Regions from separate parts of the Homo sapiens genome. Here region 2 is reported to be linked to region 1. The links are microRNA targets in miRTarBase. Many come from high-throughput screens and were not tested one by one. Region 1 holds a microRNA gene; the other region holds the end of a gene's coding sequence.
What was found. Region 1 holds the annotated microRNA hsa-miR-3936 (UAAGGGGUGUAUGGCAGAUGCA, at 1,361-1,382, opposite strand). A microRNA usually pairs through its seed, bases 2 to 8, with sites in the 3' UTR of a target mRNA and lowers its output. Matches are read on the target gene's strand: a 7mer-m8 pairs with bases 2 to 8, a 7mer-A1 pairs with bases 2 to 7 and ends in A, and an 8mer does both.

Region 1 (4,388 bases):
TCTCTGAGGGGAATGAATTTACATTTCTACTACCACAAATAGGATGGTCAAGTTTGTTGCAATGCAAAATTTTTTCTGTGGAATTCAAAAACTGTCCTGTACCTCTTGAAGCCGAATTGTGGGGTTTCACATTGGAAATTACACTCATCTAAAGAAACAGTCTGGACATTTAAGTCCTTAAACAGTTGTTCAAAGTATTTTATTACATACTTTTTCTAGTCTTCAGAATGTTTCAAGGTCCATTGTCTTCATGGCTAGTTACCTGTCTGTCCAGGCCAAACAAACTGGAGTTAAAATGCAGAATCACATAACAGCAGAAATGTGATTTCTCATTCTATTGTGCAATCCAACAGAATTGTGCCAAGTCTTGCTAGGCTGACGCTGCTCTACTCTGCCCAAATGCCAATATGCATTGGGGTGATGACATCCCACTTGGGATATTGTCTGATGACACAGACAGACTTCTCTGTTTCTCCACTCTTGGGTCATATAATTCAATGTTCTGGGGCTGAGGCAAATAATGTCTTACAGTGATTTTGGCAAGAAAAAAACAGCTATTTCAGATTTTGTTCAAGTTCCCCTAGTCATGTCAGACCCCATTGACTTCAGTAGGGATGGCACCATGTTCAAGAGGCTGAAGAAGAGACCTAGAACCAGAAACTGAGACATAAGGTTTATTGAGGGGACTTACAATACAGGGCAGTCCAGTGGCAGTGGGCTGGGCAGGAGAACCAAAACTCCTTGTAAAAAGCATGCAATTGGCCAGGCGTGGTGGCTCATACCTGTAATCCCAGCGCTTTGGGAGGCTGAGGCAGGTGGATCACCTGAAGTCAGGAGTTTGAGACCAGGCTGACCAACATGGGGAAACCCTGACTCTACTAAATACAAAAAATTAGCCGGGCCTGGTGGTGGGCACCTGTAATCCCAGCTACTTGGGAGGCTGAGACAGCAGAATCACTTGAACCCAGGAGGCGGAGGTTGCAGTGAGCCGAGATTGCACCATTGCACTCCAGCCTGGGCAACAAGAGCAAAAACTCTGTCTCAAAAAAACAAAAACAAACAAAAAACACCATGCAGTTTATATAACATTTTTACTTAACACCTTTCCCCTAGCAACCTCCACCAGGCAACCTTCATTTAACCTAAAACAAAGGGCTTTGATCGCCTCGTAGGGCCTGCATTCTACAGGATGGGCTGGGGGTGGGAGCAGTTCAGAAGTTCGTCATAGATAAGAAATGAAATATCTGGGTTGGCCACTCCCAGATTCCTTAGCTTGGAGCTCTGAACACACATTCTTCTTAGACCATAGGGTCATTCTTCAGGTATGCATAAGTTATTGCTGCCAAGTGCATCTGTCGGGTGCATCTGCCATACACCCCTTACCAGAAGCGTCCAAACACGGATTTGAGGGATCTACAGCAGACACTGGACAGATGCTCTGAATCATTCTCTACTCTGATGCTGAAGCTATAATATTGGACTAAGCTTGGGCCTTCTACTCTTTTCTTTCTTTCTTTTTTTTTTTTTTGAGACGGAGTCTTACTCTGTTGCCCAGGCTGGAGTGCAGTGGCGCGATCTCGGCTCACTGCAACCTCCACCTCCCAGGCTCAGGCAATCCTCTCACCTCAGCCTCCTGAGTAGCCGGGACTACAGGCGCGTGCCACAATTGGCTAATTTTTGTATTTTTAGTAGAGACAGGGTTTCACCATGTTCCTTAGGCTGGTCTCAAACTCCTGACCTCAGGTGATCCACCCTCCTCAGCCTCCCAAAATGCTGGGATTACAAGTATGAGCCACCGCACCCAGCCTATTCTTTTCTTAAAGGAGGAGGCCTTCCCTTCCTCAGGCAAGTAATTGCTGACTACTCCAGCCTACATAACGTCCAGACATATCCAAATCTGTGGAGAACACAAAGTTCTTAAGGTATTTATTTAGAGTCAATAATCAAAGTAAAACTAATAATTATAGCTAATATTTAGTTTGTAGTTAATATATGCTAGGAGCTCGAGCTAAGCACTACCATCCCAGGAAACTGAGGCTTAAAACACTTTTAAAATTTGCTCAAGCTCACAAGCTTGGAATTGAAGAAGAAAGCAATTGAATATTGGTCTTTCTTCTATCATACATCCAGAGGCTCTGCACTTAATCAATACAACATACTGTCTCTTATTGCACAAGTAACTACAAGGTTCATCTGTAAAATTCTATTCTGTAGAATAGAAGGGAAAACAAATTAAGGAATTACAGATGTTTATTCTTCTGAGCTTTAATTTAACGTATTGTTTGATTCAAATAATTTATATATTAGCTATCTATTGCCACATAACATAATACCTCAAAATTTACCATTTTAAAACAACCAACATTCATTATTTCTCAGAGTTTCTGAGGATCAGGAATCTGGGAGCCACTTAACTGAGTGGTTCTGGTCCAGAAGACTCTCATGAAGTTGCAGTCAAGCTGTCAGTAGTCATCTCGACACCCAACTGATGCTGAAGGAGCTACTTCCAAGCTCACTCAAGGTTGTTGGTGGGCCTCAGTTCCTCATTAAATGTTGGCTAGAGACTTCATTCCTTGACATCACATGGACCCCTCAAAGGGCTGCTTATAACATGACAGCTTGCTTGTCTCTGAGCAAGAGAAAGGGAAAAGAACACCCATGATGGACATCTTTTATAATGTAATTACCCAAGTGATATAAGTATCATCACTAATGCTGTATGCTTTTGGTCACATAGACCAATCCTGGTACAGGGATCATTCATTGGGTGCCATCTTGGAGGCAAGCTACCACATCTGCCAGGGTATGAATGCATTTAATCTAAAGTTCTAGCCCTGAACTGTAGGGTTATCTACCATATAAATCAGTTTTACATTTTTTAATATGTAAAATAGGAACATCCCAATTCAGAATATTGCAGGATAAAGGGCCTCAGGTAACTGATTAAGATTCTAAGCTCTCTTTCTCTTTTAAAAGATGAAATTTAAGGCTGGGTATGGTGGCTCCTACCTATAATCCCAGTACTTTGGGAGGCCAAGACGGGGGGATCACTTGAGGTCAGGAATTTGAGACCAGCTTGGCCAAAATGGCAAAACCCTGTCTCTACCAAAAATACAAAAAAAATAGCTGGGTGTAGCGGCGCGTGGCTGTAGTCCCAGGCACTTGGAAGGCTCAGGTGGGAGGATTGCTTGAGCCCAGGAGGTTGAGGCTGCAGTGAGCCAAGACCACCTCACTGCACTCCAGCCTGGGTGACAGAAGGAGACCCTGTCTCAAAAAAAAAATGCAATTTAAATAGTAATGGCATTCAGATAGTAATCACAGTGCACCTGGAACTGGACGGCACCATCTTAGGTTGCTCTCTGCTTTGCGCATGTGGACAAGCCATCTATGACAAATAGTTTCTTTTCTTCCTAAGGATATGCAGCTTCTTTTGTAGTATACTGCATTGTTTTCAGTCCCTTTCAGGAATGTTATCTGATGCCCAACTGATATTTCTCAAATGTTAAAATAAGACTTCTTCATCTTGTTTGGTCTGGACAGAGGTCAACATTCTTCTCATAAAAGCTTTCATTTCTTTTGAAGCATTAAAATAATATTTTAGCACACAAAAAAGGAGTTTATTTTCAAGAAGCTTTGCTTTCTTTTTCAGTTAGTTCTAGATAAGAACTATAACTTCACATAAGATGTTAGAAGGATTTAAGTACATTGCTGAAGGTATAACCATCCATCTTCAGGAAGTAAGAATAGTGAATAGTAAGTATAAAGAAACAAACAAGTCCTGTGATAACATCTTTATCATAATTTTTTTAAGTCTATTATGCTTTATGCAAATGTTTAGATTTCCTTGTTAAAAATCTGCTGGCCAGGTTAGGTTCCCTTTCTGTAGCTTTATTTTCAACTCATAATATAGTGACTATTAAATATTCTTTACTCAACACATTATATTGTAAAAATATACACTTAGTTCTGTTTCTATCACTAAGCCACTACTATTTTAAAAAGGAATATCTTGCATTGTTAAGTTTAGCAGCCCAAATTCTTAAAGGCCTTAGGAATGGTGCTGTCCAATAAGATAACCAATAGCTACATGTGGCTACTGAGCACTTAAAAAATGAGTCTGGCCAGGCATAGTGGCTCACGTCTGTAATTCAGCATTTTGGGAGGCTGAGGTGGGAGGATTGCTTAAACCCAGGAGTCTGAGACCAGCCTGGGCAACACAGGGATGCCTTGTCTCTGTAAAATAAAAAAAATAAAAAAATTAGCTGGGCACGGTGGCATGTGCCTGTAGTCCTAGCTACTCAGCAGGCTGAGGCAGGAGGCCCACTTAAGCTTAGGAGTTCAGGGCTGCGGTGAGCTATGATTGTGCCACTGCACTCTAGCCTGGGTGA
Region 2 (4,388 bases), not on the chromosome of region 1:
CATCAGACTGCACTTCTCTGCCCTACAGGAAATTTGTATCAGCTACTTGGACTGCTGTCAGCGGGAGCGCAGCCGCCACAGCCGCCACAAGATCCTCAGGTGCCAGCTGGGGACATGGTTGTGCAGCTGGGCTCTGGGGTCCTCTACCCATAGCTCCCTGACTTTTCCCCCTCACCATCCCCCACCGCTGCAGGGAGAACTATCTATTTGTCTGTTCCTGTCCCAAATGCCTGGCAGAGGCTGATGAACCCAATGTGACCTCAGAAGAGGAAGAGGAAGAGGAGGAGGAGGAGGAAGGAGAGCCAGAAGATGCAGAGCTGGGGGATGAGATGACTGATGTGTGATGTTGCCCTGCCCAGAAAGGGCCCTGCCCTAGACCCTGCCAGAAAAGGGGGCTCTTCCCCCAGAGAAGTGGCTTGGAGGGAACTTCCCACTCCCATTGCCTGCTTTCCCCATTCCAGCCCTCTCTGCTAGAGGGTAGGAGAGAGCCTGGATCTCTGGCCCCAACCCCCACCAGACCTCATGCCCTGGACACTGCTGCTGAGTTGGCTCAGACTCTGCACTGGCACTGAGCCTTTCACAACTGGCCTCCCCTTGAGGTTCCTCCACTCTAGGGTTTGAGGGGCTGGAATCAGGGCCAGGGCCTAACAGTGTTTCTTCCCCTCGGCCCCACGGCCCATACTCACCCCTTCACCTGAGGCTTCTCCCCTCTCAACTTGCTGTTGATTTCTTTTGAGGGGTAAAAGAAAGACCGAGTTCATTGAAGCAGAGATGGGAGGTGGTGAGGCGTCCTCACCTCCCCCCACCACAGCTGTGGCTGGTAAGGCAACTGCTTGACCACTGGCCCAGCAAGCAGAGGCGGGCAGGAGGATCTGGGCATCCTGAGCCCCTTCCCTGAGGCTGTCTCCTGGGAATGCTGGACCAGGGGGATTACTTCCCCCACCCACACCCCCATTTGGACATCTGGGGAAGTGGAGATTAACCCCTCCCCCAGACTCGTGCCTTGCCTCTCAGGACCTGGCACAGTGGCTGGCCTTATGGAGTATGGAAAAGGCCTCTGCCTTCCTCAGGAGGGACACATAGTGGGTCATCACCCTTTCTCACACCTGCTTCCCAATGAGCACTCAGCAGCATGGCTGAGACCTGGGGCTTGACAGGCCTGCGCTCCTTAGATTAGGATGCTCTGGTATTCCTGGGGCCAGTTAAAATGGGTCAGTGAGGGGCTCTCCTGGCCTCAATCTCCATCTTTAGGGTCTCCACAGACTAACATTGAAGTCTTCCAGAAACCTCGAGGAGCTGGGCTAGATACTTCGAGAGTAGCCCTGTCTTGTCCCCTCCTACCCCCAGATTAGCACCACCCCTCTCACTCTTGGGTTGGATGCTATGGGAATTACAACCCATCACTCCCAATGCCTCCCTTTCCTGGAGGAGCCTGCTGCATTCTCCTGCTGAGGGATCCCAGAGAGGGCAGGTGCCCACCCCACAGGCCCTTTCCTGGACCATGGAGCCAGGTGAAACCTGTCTGGCCCCTTACCCATTGGGTTCTTACTCCTTCACAACGGTCAGCACTCCTCTCCCAGCCCCCCTGCCCACTGTTCTCAATAAAATGTGAGTGGTGAGAGGCCTCTGCAGGAATGCTTTGTGGCAAGTGGCTGGGCAGGCTGCCCCGGGCGTGCAGCAGGCACAGGTGGGTGCAAAGGAATACCAATTAGACCAGGTAATGGTAGGAGATGGGAGCTCCAGGCTCACCAGCTTGGGCTCACCTCTACTGTTATTTACACCCTGCTATGCAAATGTTCTAATGCCCAAGAGCAAGGGTCCTCTGAGGTCCAGTTTGGGTGGTTTTTAAATTTTGAGACAGGGTCTCACCTTGTCACCCAGGCTGGCATGCAGCAATGCAATCATAGCTCACTACAGCCTTGAACTTCTGGGCCCAAGTGATCCTCCCACCTCCGCCTCCTGAGTAGCTGGGACTATAGGCTCACACCACCACACCCAGCTAATTTTTAATTTTTCTGTAGAGATGGGATCTTGCTATGTTGTTGCCAAGGCTGGTCTTGAATTCTTGGCCTCAACTGATCCTCCCACCTCGGCCTCCCAAAGTGCTGGGATTACAGGCATGGGCCACCATGCCTAGCCCTGAGGTCCAGTTTGGACCCCCAGTTCCAGGCTCTAAGATGAGTCTTCTCCTGAGGGGCTGAACTCTGGCTTCCCAGGGCTTCCTTGGCTCCTAGCAGGAAGCTGTGCTGGGATCTAAGACTAGCAGTCTGAGCACTGGTCCCAAATGACCTAGGCCAGTCACTGTCCTCTGTGGGTGTTTCCTTTCCTCAGAACGACAGTATGGGACGATACGAGTGAGTTTGAAGGTCCTGCCCACCCGTGTGCTCTTATTCTAGGACACAGTTGCAACCCTGATGAGAAGCTTTATTGCTAAAAAGTCAGTGAGGGTTTATTGAGTCCCCAAACACCAGCTCTTTAAACCACTCCAACAACTGCTGTGAAGGTCACTGTGCAGAGACCCTGGGTAGGGGAGGCTGGAGCCAGGTGAGTGTGACAGGTCACAGATGGCTCTCAGGCCACCTGCCTTCAGCTCCTTTTGTTTCGGGTTCTAGCCAGAAGCCCTGGGGCCTGTCTCTTGCCTCTTCTTGTAGCATGAGACACCCTTGGGGGCCCTGGGGAAGGGAAGGCCAGTGGTGTGGCTTCCCTTTCAGCCTAGCAACGCCCAAACCCTTTTCCTCTACCTGGCTCCACTTGTCCCCAGATGCTATCTCCAAATTCCAAGTAGCAAAATTCCTGGGTTTCCCCTTCCCAGCTCAGAGTCACTTATGGCTGGAATGTGGGACAAACTCTTCTACCAGAAGGTCCAGGGCGGTTGCAGCAGCTCAAAGGTGGGGATGCTGGTGACATTGACTGGGATGGAAATGATGGCCCATGGCAGCCCATGCTGTTCCAGAGAGCGGCGGATCATGTAGCTGGGAGGGCATGAAGAGAGGTGGTGACGGTCACTTTCTTGGTACCCCATCATGCCCCACTGTCCCCATCAATCTGGGAGTTCCAAAGCCCGAGATCTTTTTTTGCCCTCTAACTGAAGCACCCCAAGTTGAGGCCTGCAAGAAGGGACTGGTGATTACCCCTGACCCAGTCATGGCGCCCAGCCTGGTGCTGATAAAGCCAGAGGCAAGGAGCCCTCACCCGTCTCGGCCGAGCAGGAAGAGGGCGGGGATGTCAGCTGTGCGCTGGGTACTGTCCTGGATCATCTCCACGTAGAAGCTGTCATTGTCAACTGCGTTGTCAGAGATGATCACCGCCCGCCCGCCGTGCTCCTGGACCACCCGAGTCTTGGAGAGGAAGGAGCAGCCCCTGGAAGAGGTGGTGATAAGACCAAAGGAAAGACAGGTCCTAGCTCCCCCTTCCCCAGACCATCACCCTGGGAGTATAGAAGGCAGACTATGAAGAATCTGTTATAAAGGCTCATAAGTAAATAGCTAAAAGCATGGATAATTTAAATACATTTCTTTTTCCTTTTTCTTTTTTTTTGGAGACTGGGTTTTGCTCTGTTGCCCAGGCTGGAGTGCAGTGACGTGATCTCGGCTCACTGCAGCCTTAACATGCGGTCAAGCAATCCTCTCACCTCAGCCTCGAGTAGCTGGGACCACAGGTGTGCACCACCATGCCCAGCTAATTTTTGTATTTTTTGTACAGACAGGGTTTCTCCATGTTGCCCAGGCTAGACATTTCTTAAAGACGCTTAAAAAGATGAAATTTTCAAAAACAGCTCTTTCAAAGCACTACTACCAATAATCTCAGAATCTGCCGTATGCCTGCCCACTCCTCGTGTCCTGCCTGCCCACTCCTTACCCCCTCTCCACCAGAGCAATCTGGTCCTGGATGAAGAAACCGTTGCTGAGTTCCCCGCAGGCCTCTGGAGGTTCAGCGGGGACAAGGTGAATCTGCTCATACCTTGTGTGCTGAAAAACATTTAACATTTGGACAGGTGAGAGTGTAATGAGACACACCTGCTTTAGGACTGGGCTGACAATCCCATCTTATTGGCACCTTATAAAGTGTGAAGGAAACATGGAGTGGTTTCTGTATCGCCAGACACTTAAACATTTTTACTTAATTCTCGCAAAGGCCTATCTGGTTGTCCTACACCACCCTACCCTTCTATGAGATAGGCAGGGGACTTGGTTGTAGATCCAGAGAGAGGAAGTGATGTGCCTTAAGTCACATAGTTCACAGGTAGAGCTGGCAGAGGAAGCTGGTGCTCTTGGCTTTTCACTTCATGTCCCCTAAAAAGACAACTTGTCCCTCCATGGTGCCTAGGTTTATATTATACTCAGGGGAGTAGCTGGAAGAGCTTCCTTTCTGTGCTGCAGCTCATGGAA

Region 2: the mRNA of SMYD5 is a reported target of hsa-miR-3936. Seed matches in the 3' UTR shown: 7mer-m8 at 685-691 and 7mer-A1 at 1,527-1,533.

The regions. Positions count from the first base shown.
Region 1 is chr5:132,364,153-132,368,540 of GRCh38, forward strand. MIR3936 (microRNA 3936) reads right to left here and starts at 1,447; the gene lies at 1,338-1,447. It overlaps MIR3936HG (MIR3936 host gene), which reads right to left. Exons shown (of 8, transcript NR_110997.1): 2 at 2,416-2,629; 3 at 783-875.
Region 2 is chr2:73,225,603-73,229,990 of GRCh38, forward strand. SMYD5 (SMYD family member 5) reads left to right here. Exons shown (of 13, transcript NM_006062.3): 12 at 29-99; 13 at 194-1,619. The coding sequence ends at 344. It overlaps PRADC1 (protease associated domain containing 1), which reads right to left. Exons shown (of 5, transcript NM_032319.3): 3 at 3,859-3,968; 4 at 3,193-3,360; 5 at 2,408-2,972. The coding sequence ends at 2,852. Among named protein-coding and RNA genes, the nearest start is that of PRADC1, 5.4 kb to the right of the region's middle.